Regions from separate parts of the Homo sapiens genome. Here all the other regions are reported to be linked to region 2. Evidence: microRNA targets listed by miRTarBase, many of them from high-throughput screens and not tested one by one. Region 2 holds a microRNA gene; each other region holds the end of a gene's coding sequence.

Region 1 (4,000 bases), not on the chromosome of region 2:
GTAGTGGTGCAATTTCGGCTCACCGCAGCCTCCGCCTCCTAGGTTCAAGCGATTCTCTTATCTCAGCTTCCCAAGTAGCTGGGACTACAGGAGTGTGCCACTACACCCACTAATTTTGTATTTTTAGTGAGAAACGGGGTTTCACCATGTTGGCCATGCTGGTCTTGAACTCCCGGCCTCAAGTGATCCTCCCGCCTCAGCCTCCCAGAGTGCTGGAATTACAGGCCTGAGCCACCGTGCCTGGCCCCTGATTGGTCTTGACAGGTGTTTTTAATGTCCCAAGTCTCCGTAAATGTGGGATGGAGCTTCTCTCAGAGGCTCTTCCCCCCAACTCCCAACCAGGTGGAATCGTCTTCCAGAACAAAATCTCCCAGTGCTTTGTGGTGTACTGAAATCATGTCTAAGAACAGAGAACTTAACAGTCACATGCCTTTTTAAAAACTGGAATAGGCTGGGCGCGGTGGCTCAGGCCGGTAATCCTAAGACTTTGGAAGGCCGAGGCGGGTGGATTACCTGAGGTCAGGAGTTCAAGACCAGCCTGGCCAACATGGTGAAACCCCATCTCTACTAAAAATACAAAAAATTAGCTGGGTGCAGTGGTGCGTGCCTATAATTCCAGCTACTCCAGATGTTGAGGCAGGAGAGTTGCTTGGACCCGGGAGGTGGAGGGTGCAGTGAGCCAAGATTGCGCTACTGTACTCCAGCCTGGGCAACAGAGTGAGACTCCGTCTCCAAAAAAAAAAAAAAAGGTGTCATAAACCTCTGAGACTGTAGCCTGCTTCTTAGCTTCTCATTGAGATTCCTAGAGGTGCGTTCGAGTTTTCAGAGTAATTTTCCAGACCAACCAGCGTCAGTGGGAAATCTGACCTCTTTTGGCAAACTGCGATCATTCATTTTCCTGAGTCCCCTGGTGGGGTGGGGGGAATTCTGCCTCAGGACCCTGAGGGGTCTTTGGGGCAAGATGGCCTTGGTAATGCAGCCACTAAGAACAGGACTTCATTCAAAGGCATAATGAAGTAACCAGGGTGACCATCAAGTAAAATTAAAGCACAAGATCATTGTAGGAGGCTTCCTTGTCAAAGACGTGAACGTGGGATTTCCAACGCACCATGGTGTGTCCACTCATCACTGCATGTTAGGAACTGCTGTCTCTTTGGGACACGAGTTAAAAGAACACACTAATTTCTGGAGTGTGCCTGCAGCTTCACGGCCTTCATTTTGTTACTAAGTTATTTTCTGGAAGAACAGCAAAAATTTCAGGTTGAAAACAGAACTTTCCAAGTGCTACTGAAATTCCGCAGAGAATTACGCTGCGATGGTGGGTTTCTTACCCTAGAAACATCCTAACCTGTATCCACAGAAGATGTCCTTTTATTTTTTTAAAAGATCAATAAAATCAAGAGAAACGAATGTTGAACTTGTTGGGCTTCTGGTCAAAGAGGCTTTGTATGTTTATACTTTAATGTTTTCCCACAGAGTGGTGAAAAACTTTTTTTAACCAAGTTAAAAAATATGAAAAAATCTTTTTGAAAATTTCTATTCAAGCCAGGTTTTTAGAAATGTATCCGGGATGTGTTTGTGCGTCATTCAAGGCATATTAGCATCTGGTCACAAGATGGAGTCCTTTGTTTCCATGTTTCCTGTCTCCCAAATCTGTCTGATCCCATGGAGTTGGTGGTATACGGCATCGTTTGTGTTGAACAGAGCCTTTGCAGGCATGTCTGTCTAAAACACTCAAGCTGAAAGAAGGACAGGGCCTACAGCTTGTTTTTATGGCCCTTACTCTAAGAATGATTTATTATGTTTTTAAGGGTTGTTTTAAAGAAGATGAATATTCGGCAAGACCATATGTAGCCTGTAAAGGCTAAAATACTATCTGGCTGGGTGGGTGGTGGTGGTGGTGTGAGAGACAAGGTGTTACTGTTACCTAGGCTGCAGTGCAGTGGCGTGATCATAGCTCACTGCAGCCTGGAACTCCTGGCTCACATGATCCTCCTGCCTTAGCCTTCCAAGAGGTTGGGAGTACAGGTGTGCACTATCCTGCCTGGCTTACTAACAACAACAACAAAAAAACACCTTTTTTTTATAGAGACGGGGGTCTCTCTCGGCTAGGCTGGCCTCCAACTCCTGGCCTCAAGTGATTTTCCCATCTCAGCCTCCCAAAGTGCTGGGATTCCAGGTGTGAGCCACTGTACCCAGCCACCATCTGACGTTTTGTGGAAAGTGTTTGCTGACTCATTGGACAAGACCTTGTGTTTTAACTCAAAAAATCAAGGAAATCCTGTATTTTTCTTAAGATACTGGTTTTGATGAGTCAAGATGTTCTTCCCAGTCATGTTCGAGGGCAGGGGGCAGTGGCCCTTAGACCACACATCACCTTATTTCTCTCCCCTGCCCTCCCTGCTGAGCGGCCCAGTAACCCCCTTAGACAGTCTCACTTTGCATCTCTGCTCTGCTCTCTGGCTGGCTGTGGGGTTGTAGGCAATTGATTTCACCTCTCTAGGCCTCAGTTTCTGCATTCATGACGTTAACCCTGACTTCAGAGAATCTTTGGGACGATGAAGCAAAACCCAGCCTTCCCCAACTCCTTTTCCTCTATAGAAAACAGCTCAACAGAAAAGCCAACGACATTGTGATTTATAACCATTTATTAGTGAAAGTGTTTTTAAGCACAGTCAGGGTGTAAACAGTGCAGCATTCCTGCTCCCCTCCGTGGGAGCAGCGTCTCCTTTTCAATTCATGTGACTACAGAAGGCACTTGGTGAACTGTGCGTGTCTGAGGTGTGGAAACCAGGAGAGGGGGAAAGAATTCTCAAAGGCCTGACGTGAGAAGTTGGAAAGGTTTGCAGGTTAGGGAATGAATTGGGAGTGGGGGCCGGCGGCACCCATTTCGGTGACTTTCTCCCCATTTCATGTAAACAGAATTGCCAGGGACCGGTTACCGTGGATATGTTTTTCTAAAAACTCAGTGTCTGCACAATCCATTGATAGAACTGGAGGATGTGTCTGTGTTTCCTGTTGGGTTTTTCTCATCTCTTACATCATACAAACTTCAATTTTTACCTTGAATACAGGGGTAGTAGGGGTGGTGGTGGTGGTGGTGGTTGAGACAGGGTCTCTGTTGCCCAGGCTGGAGTGCAATGATGCAATTATAGCTCATTGCAGCCTCGAAGTCCTGGGCTGGAGCGTTCTTCCTGGCTCAGCCTCCCTAGTAGCTGGGACCACAGGTGTGTACCACCACGCCCAGCTTATTTTTAAATTCTTGTATAGATGAGGTTTTACTACGTTGCCCAGGCTGGAGGGTGGTGGTTTTTATATTCCTTGTGTGAGGGGTGTCTGTGATATTTGGAATTTGAGAATGGATTTAGACAATGCTAAGTACAGTCTGCTGGGTTTTGCTTTGTTCTGGGTTGTTGTTGGGTTTTTTTTGTTTGTTTGTTTTGGTTTTTGGTTTTCTTGCCGTGGTGCAAAACTGTAGAAAGTTGCTTATTCACTGGCCTTGGTTCCATTGAAGTCTGCGTCTCGAGTGTCCGTTTCCTCCTCAGAACCATCTGCATTTTCAATAACTCTACGTCCTCCAGACCTTCTAGAAGGAACGAAAGAGGTCTCGTTTCCTCGCCTGTGGGTTGTAAGAAAACACATTATTTAGCAAAGAAATCTTCATGGTTGGGATAGATTTTTTATAAATCTATTTTAAACTTGTAGCTATAGTCCTATTGCAATATAAATTTTTTTTATGGCAGAAAACACACACGGCACAAATAAGATGCAGATATTCAAGTTGAAGTCAACAAATCATTGCCAGTCTTAAGGCATGAGTGATTGAATTTAATCAGCTGAAATTGGTTGCGGGGGTGGGTGGAGAAGGTTTTTCAAAGCAAGACGATCTGCTTTTCAATATGTCAGGCTTGGTCATTTGAGAAGCCACAGGATTCTGGTCTGCTGTGGTCTTTGATTTAGAATAGGAAAAAAACGCCAAAAACCAAGCAGGGGATTTTGT
Region 2 (4,148 bases):
ACTTCTCCATCTCCACAGTGCCTCTCCCCTCAGCTACTCACTCACTGAATTCTGCTGTTCTTCTTGTCTTTATAATTTCTCATATTCATTTTCTCTGTGTTCTTACTGCCTCTTCCCTAATTAAGGCTCCCATGCTCTCCCTTACACTACTGCAGTGATTCTTTTCCTGTTTTCCTTACCTGCCACCTTAAAGCTAGAGTAAATTCTCTAAAGTACTGACATGGTCATCCCACTTGCCTGCTTACTATCTTTCACTCGTACCCATCGTTTGGAGATAATGCCCAAACCCTTTAACCTGGCACATAAGGACTCCCATCTTTCCCTTGTGTCTCTCCCCTTACCCTTCACCCACATGCATCTTTGACTCCACCTCTGCTGAATTCTTAAAGGCCTCAGCATACATTACCTTTGTCTTTCTTTCTCTATTGGATGACTGTTCTTTCTGGTACACTTTAAGCTACACTATCTTCTTCACTGCCCACCCCTTCCAAATTCCCATTAGCACCATCTTCACCTAGCTAATTTTATTCAGGCTTCAAGACTCAGCCTGGCTATTAGCCAACTCAGAAGTGTCTTTTGACCCATCATAACACTTATAGTAATGGTGTATGTGTCTGTCTTGCAAATTAAGCTGTGTCCTTCTCGAAGGTAGGGATGATACCCTTCATTTCTCATCACCTAGAATTTAAAACATTGCTGATATATGGCAGGCAGTCACAATTGTTTGTTGAATGAATGAATGAATGAATGAAATGAGTAAGATCCTGTAACAGTTTGGAATTATATGCCACCTGGGTTTACAGTGTAGTCTCTTATCAGGTAGGTTTGTTCTGAGATGTATAGTAATGATGACTTTCTTCTTCGCCCAAGTATTTTGTGTACCTTAGACCAGTTTAGCAAATGAAGTCCAAGAACTATTTGAATAAGTCATTCTTAGAAAATAACTTTAGGAAGCAACTGACTCCATTCATGTGTATGCCTCTAATTGTAGGTTCACTTCTGTCCGAATATGAATTTTTAAAATAATTTTAGCATTATATTAGCAATTTGCAATATACCATTTTTATGCATGTAAAGTTGTATTCTAACATATTTACTTTTTGCTCATTTGATTAAATTTATTACTGTGTATCCCATCATTAAGGTAACTAATTTTCAGTAATTAAACTGTTGGTCTTCTGTTTAGCCATTATTCTCAGTTCTGTGCAGGAGTGAGCTGAAACAAAGTTGTATAGCCCAGAGAGTGAGAAGCTGCATTTCATGTCTCCCAACAGTCAGAAAGGGATTATGTACTGTTTAAGGAAGGAGTTTGGCGAATATTTTGAAACCCTTTTGGGAAAGCATAGAATATTGAAAATCCAAAATTAACCAAATCCGTGAGTGTGCAAGCTCAAAGCTAGAGACCTTAGGAATATCTTAGGATGTGCAAAACAGGAAGAAAACAAGAACTGAGCAGGCAGCACTAAGTAAGTGTCATATAGCCTCCCCACCCACCCTTCCAACCCTACTCCTAAAAGAGCCATAATTTAGTCCCAAGTATACTTTTCTGATCTTTTCCTGTGACATATTATGGTATCTTCAAATGGTACTGGGTTTCCTGAGGCTTGTGCTGCTGACTGCCAACCCCATCCTAGAGAGCACTGAGCGACAGATACTGTAAACATCCTACACTCTCAGCTGTGGAAAGTAAGAAAGCTGGGAGAAGGCTGTTTACTCTTTCTGCCTTGGAAGTCAACTAAAGAGAAATGGATTTTGAATATTTCTATGTCTTAGAATTGATCCTATCCCGTGTTTGTTTCTGAGGTCAACTGTAAAAGGAAAAAAGGTGAATTGACTAAGTCATCCAAAGAAATGTAAGATAATCTATAATATCAGTTATATTTGAACTGTTTCACTTAGTTTAAAAAGAAAAAAAAGATTACCAAATACCCAAGTGACAAAAGTTCTGGTTAACTTGTATGAGGCTACATTTTGTGGGTTGCTGCAGTCTGATCTGTAAAAGCAACACATTACCTATACGTTAAGCTAAACATTTCTCCTTTAACCTGAGAGCATTCCACACTGAAGTCTGCTTTTCTTGAAGCAAAAATTCTAGTGTCCTTGGACTTGCTATTTTATCAGGGATCAAAGGCACCTTGGAGCCCCATGCTTTAGGAATTGTAATGGCAAACAATAAGGTCTGCTCTTTAAAGCTAGAATATAGTTACACATTTCAGGAAAAAATAGAATTGTTGTTGGAGGACGGGAGAGGAAGGAAAATGTAGAGGTAAGGGATGGGATGCAAGAAGTTAATTTTAAGAAAAATCTACAGAACGAACTCATAAGTTCAGCCTTAACCAGAAAAACTCTTTCATGTAAATCGTTTAAATCAAAGGTCTATTAAACATCTAATCTAGAATGTAACTTACCTGAAATTTGAGTCCATTGCTGATTTATTTAAAATTATTATGAAATAAGCCTTCTTGTTAAAGAGAATATTTAAATAAGGCATATTTTTATATAACAAGCCCTTAAGAAGTTAAATAATTAACTTAATGCTTCTATTAAAAATTAAACAAATCTGAACAAAATTACTCTAGTCTTGGCATATCAGCATATATCAGTCATTTAAACTAAAAGACACTCTACTACTTTAGAAGTATTAGAGGAGCTTTTAATTTTACCTCCGCACTGACTGTAGAGCCTAATACAATAGGAGTAATTGTTTCATATGAGTTTATAGAAAAAAAGTTTAAATACAATGACTTTAGCATGTGATTTCAGGGAAGTATTTGAACAGGCTGGCCTTGAAGCAGTGGTAGACACTGTTGAAGTGCCAGCTTGATTGAGTCATTTACCTTTTTAGGTTTGCCTACAGGCTTAAGAAAACCCTCTTTGAAACAATGCTCTACAGTCTTCTCAAAGAAATAATTGTTATAGATGTTTGAAATTTTGCTTTCTGCTAGGAGAGGCAGATAATATGGGTAAGGGGAAAAGCAACTCTAAGCAGCAGAGAATGATGCATATGCTTTGCCATAGCATTTTATTATTCTGCCTAAATTAAAAGGGGGGACATTCAAATATTCCAGATCTAAATTTATGGTTAACTTTTAGTCATGAATGTAGGTGTTTCAAAGCTTATTGAAATACATGCTGAAATTCATTCATCATTCAAGAATTATTTATTGAGCATCTACTATGTGAACTTCTAGGCACAGGGGATATAGCAGAGAACAGAAACAAAGTCCTTTTTCTCATGGAACTTACAAGAAAATATATAATGTGTCAAAATATAAACATCTTGTGTATCTATGTAAAATATCTAATTTTATTCAATCTTTTTATTGCCTTGTCCTCCAAAACCAAGTGTATTTAAATATTCCAGAATATTTCTTTCATTGACTATGGAAAACTTTGATATAAAGCTATATAATTTTGGTTTTTGTTTAGTATTATTCTTCTAGATATGTTCTAGTTGTTAACTAGCCTGTTTTGTGACATGAGTAAGTAGGATTATTAAGCATGCTTGAGAAGTTATATATATATATTTATATATTTATATATTTATATATATTTATATATATTTATATATATATTTATATATATTTTTATATATATTTATATATATTTATATATATATTTATATATATTTATATATATTTATATATATATTTATATATATTTACATATATTTATATATTTACATATATTTATATATATTTATATATATTTATATATGTTTATATATATTTATATATGTATTTATATATATAAATATATATATGAGGGGGCTTCAAAATATTCATGGAAACATTGAGTTAAAAGCTACAAATAAAAAATATAAATTTTATTTCTCAGAGTAAGCTCCATCAGGGTCAAGACACTTTTGTAAGCAATGATACCAGACATTTATTCCATCCCTAAAGAACAGGGTCTTGGGAATTTCACCACATCAGTGCCATCTTTTTAACATTATTAACTGAAGAAAAATGAGTGCTCTGACAGATTTTTTTAAGATTAGGAAACAAAAGTCCAAATGAGCCAAATCAGGACAGTAAGGTGGATGCCTAGTGACATTCCACTGAAACTCTGGCAAAATTGCCCTTGTTTGATGAGAAGAATGAGCAGAAGCATTGTCATGGTGGAGAGGGAGTCTGGTATAGCTTTCC
Region 3 (4,000 bases), not on the chromosome of region 2:
CTCAAACCTGCTGTGTAGCACAGAGATGGATTCCCTGTTAAGACCCCACACATGCCCCCAGTGTGGGAAACAGTTTGTATGGGGTTCCCACCTTGCCAGGCATCAACAAACACACACTGGGGAGAGACCCTACAGCTGCCTCAAGTGTGAGAAGACCTTTGGGCGAAGACATCACCTCATCAGGCACCAGAAAACCCACCTACATGACAAGACCAGCAGGTGCTCTGAGTGTGGTAAGAATTTCCGATGCAACTCCCATCTGGCCAGCCACCAGAGAGTGCATGCAGAAGGCAAATCCTGCAAAGGCCAAGAGGTTGGAGAGAGCCCTGGCACAAGGAAACGGCAGCGTGCCCCACCAGTGCCAAAGTGTCACGTGTGCACTGAATGTGGGAAGAGCTTTGGCCGAAGGCACCACCTTGTGAGACACTGGCTGACCCACACTGGGGAGAAGCCCTTCCAGTGCCCTCGCTGTGAGAAGAGCTTTGGCCGAAAACATCACCTGGACAGGCACCTGCTCACCCACCAGGGACAAAGTCCCCGGAACAGCTGGGACAGAGGAACATCTGTCTTTTGAAATCTGTTTCCACTACAGCTATGGTCAAGTCTATCAGCCGGTGCTACCAGGAGTCACTGCCAGGGCTGCCGTTCTCCTGAACCCCAGTGGCCAGAATCATAAGCCCTGACCCCATCCCTAGAAAGATGAGGTCCCAGCAATGGCCAGAGCATTTCTCACCAGTTCTGTGAGATAGCACATAAAAATAGAGTTCTTTGGGCAAAACTTTTGGGAAGCAATGCATCCTACATGGGCTGATATTCAGCCTGAGCTGTTCTCAAGAGGAGAGTGGTACTGGCAGTTTATGGCTGAAATCCATTCTGATTGGTTGGAGTCTATGCTATACCAGTTGTTAAACATTTTGAGTATCACTCTTGCATACTGTTACTATTATATTTTCTCTATATATAGACAGAAAGGCCATTTTAGAATATTAAAGGCTCTGAAAATTTCTGCAGTAGACCCAACTGAAGGTTCTATTAAGGCAGTGTTTCCTAAATGTATTTGACCTCAGTATCCTTTCTATTTACATCCCACAGAACTGGTGACTATGAAACACTCTGGTGAACACTGGGTTAGAGAGTAACAAGGAAACAAGAGATAGTGATCAGGCATCCAGAGCCCCCTTTTTTATCCATATGAAAGCCAGGGGGGCCAGACCTTGTTCATGTGTGGGTCTGTCTTCCTTATGCCAATCAGCAGTATATACATCACCTCTCACCCTCACCTGCTGAAAAAATAACCTTTTTACCCATTATTCCTACTCCCTTCATCCTGCACATACATATATCCAGCTGAGAGATCACACTACAAGGCTAAGAGATGATCTAATACCCCCAAATAGCCCTGGCCCACACAGAAAAACAGAAAAACAAAAAAAACTTTATCCCCTTGAACAGTCCCCTCTCTCCTCTTGACTGTCTTTATGTGTCTGTGTATTTGTGTGCAGGGTCTTTGAAGACAGCATGCTATGTGCAAACTGTACAAGCTAGGTTTTCTAGGGGCTGTGTTCTGGGGATGAGGGTAGTGGGGATTATATGGGGTTTTTTCTTTGTTTCAAGACAGGAAGCAGTCTGGTTAAGGGAGAACTAGTGGAAAGGGTTAAATGACAGGTTAAGTTGAGTACAAAGCTTTCCCAGTACTGCTGAGATTAAGACAATTGTGGATGTGTATGTCTAGGTTTGAATCTCTGGGCTGCAGATTGCTTTTGCCCTGGCAGAGAAAGAGGAGTCTTTGGGGAGGTGAGCTGTTTCTTGTTGATTTCAGGCAAGAGGCACATAGAAACTTTGTATTGAGTGGGGATTTTGTTTTAAGTGCTGGAAAATTAGGGCAGGAATTACGTGTTTGCAAGTTGTTGCCATCACTGGTTTGAATTTGACTGCCTCATCAAGGGGCAAGAGTTATTCTTGAAGATCTCATTCTCCCAGAAACAGAACTTTAGGGAAAATGGCTGTGGCTTAGCTTTTCAGCTGCTGCAGGGTAATAAGCTTTCTGGTTGGTTTTCCTTCCAATTCTGGAAAGGTGTCCACACTAAGACCCTTAACTCTAGGGCTTGCATAAGTATTCTAGCATCGTTAGCTAATGAGTTGGTCATTGTTTCTCTTTATCAATAATTGTGTTAATACCAATCTTATAATTTAAAAATTATCTTGTATGTAAGAGCAGTTCGGGGTTAGGGAGGAAGAGGAGCAAAGTGGGATATTTTCTCTTTAATGCTTAGATACTGTTTCTTCCCTAAGATGTGTTTCTCAACCACAATTGGTGGAATGAACCAGAGAGGCAAGAGGAAGTGAATTGCACCAATTTAGTTTAGCGACTGTGCCTTTTGCAGGAAAAACTGGGTGAATCACAGCTCCTCAGAGTCCTGGACTCAACTAGAATTGAAGATAGACTTATTTTGCTGACTGGGCTTCTTAGAGTTTATGTGACTTGAACAGCTTGGCCCCTGCCTCCCTTCTGCTACTGTGAGCAGCCTTCCTTCTTCCTTCATTCTTCCTGGAATGCAGTTCTCTTGCTTATGATCCTATGAATAAGGCAAAATGGCTGGTCTTTGTAAGGCAGGTCTTGCCCTAGCTTCTCAGAAACAGGAGCATTTTAGGATCAGTATTAGGAGATGCCCCAGGGAGTAAGAAAGTATTGGGTTCAGTGATAAATCTGGACTCTGACATTTCTTTTACTCTCCCTCTTTAATACTAAAAGCTCTGCATAAGCAATGGTTCAGAACCTGTCTTGGGTACAGACCTGTTGAATCTGACAGAAACCAGAAACGCACTTTTGAGAAAAAGACATTTGTAATTCACTCAGTTTTCCATACACATTTAGCAGGTTCAAAGCCCATCTGTGGAATCCCTAAACTGCCTTCAAAGAAAGGGAGTTCCCCGATCTAAAATGGTCATTATATATTTGTGTCAAGAATTAGAAGGCAAGGGTCACTAAATATTTTAAGGATTAAGGTACCAGAGGCATCAGTGGTATAAGGATGGAGTCTGGTCTTTAATTACGACAAGGGTATTGCTTACATTCTACTCTCTGGTTTTCAAAAAGATCTGACATGCTGACAAATCCAGCTCCTCACAAATCTTGTTTGAAGGACTTGTGGGAAGTGATATTCCTTACTATTAGATCACGCCCCTTATAACTACATGTTAACATCCAGCCTTTTATCTGTTTGAGTAATTGTAGGGATAGAAAGTGAAGCCCCCAGAGTTAGGTGCAAGTATAGCACCCAGCTGAAAGGCATCATGGAGTCTAAGGGCCTTCTACAGAAGGGGCAATCCTTTGGGTTATTTCTGGTGTACCACTGTCTTCTCTACCTCGGTCCAACACCACCTCTCTTGGACAAAAAATAAAACAAGCAACAGCCATCAGATGAGTGAATAGATTTGAATGATTTTTCCCACAGGGAATCAGCCTCAAATGTTCATGTTTCACCCCGTCCCCTTTAAATAAAAAGAATCTCTGTGTTCTCTTTGGGCAAAATGTAAAACAGGGATATCATCTTCAGGAACCTGTCACATTTTTCCATCTGGTACCTCCACCCTATTCTGAGTATCCTCCCCTTTCCACCCCAACATAGTATCTTTCAAAGAATCCCTTGCATAGGAGACTGTAACCGAAAGTGTTAGCTTTTCACCAGGCTATTTACACTTTACGCCTTAGTTCTAATTGTGGAAGGAAAAACTTTTCCCTTGTCAAAGTAATGTTATGGCTTCAGAGAACCAAAGAGGTGATAATTTGGGACAAAATTCCTCCCTTTCCAACATTCCTGCAATCAAATCACTGTTTCCTATTTCCATCAAGGGCAGGTCCTGACTCAGACCTACAAAGGCCAGAAGGCCAGTTCTTTCCATCTCTGAATTAGGATGCATGCACTGAATGGGAGTGGGTGGGGCTGGGCAATATCAGAAAAGTGAAATCCATTCCTTTAGATCCTTAGAGAGCCTGAGC

What was found. The annotated mature microRNA hsa-miR-30c-2-3p reads CUGGGAGAAGGCUGUUUACUCU and lies in region 2 at 1,696-1,717, shown strand. An mRNA with a match to its seed (bases 2 to 7 or 8) in the 3' UTR can be bound and repressed. Matches are read on the target gene's strand: a 7mer-m8 pairs with bases 2 to 8, a 7mer-A1 pairs with bases 2 to 7 and ends in A, and an 8mer does both.
Region 1: the mRNA of MYH11 is a reported target of hsa-miR-30c-2-3p. Seed matches in the 3' UTR shown: 7mer-A1 at 2,863-2,869.
Region 3: the mRNA of ZNF641 is a reported target of hsa-miR-30c-2-3p. Seed matches in the 3' UTR shown: 7mer-m8 at 1,973-1,979.

What each region holds. Positions count from the first base shown.
Region 1 is chr16:15,700,505-15,704,504 of GRCh38, forward strand. MYH11 (myosin heavy chain 11) reads right to left here. Exons shown (of 41, transcript NM_002474.3): 41 at 2,631-3,619. The coding sequence ends at 3,487. The region is part of intron 8 of NDE1 (nudE neurodevelopment protein 1); the gene reads left to right. Among named protein-coding and RNA genes, the nearest start is that of NDE1, 52 kb to the left of the region's middle.
Region 2 is chr6:71,374,533-71,378,680 of GRCh38, reverse strand. MIR30C2 (microRNA 30c-2) reads left to right here and starts at 1,650; the gene lies at 1,650-1,721.
Region 3 is chr12:48,339,547-48,343,546 of GRCh38, reverse strand. It overlaps ZNF641 (zinc finger protein 641), which reads left to right. Exons shown (of 6, transcript NM_001172681.2): 6 at 1-4,000. The coding sequence ends at 574. Among named protein-coding and RNA genes, the nearest start is that of ZNF641, 9.4 kb to the left of the region's middle.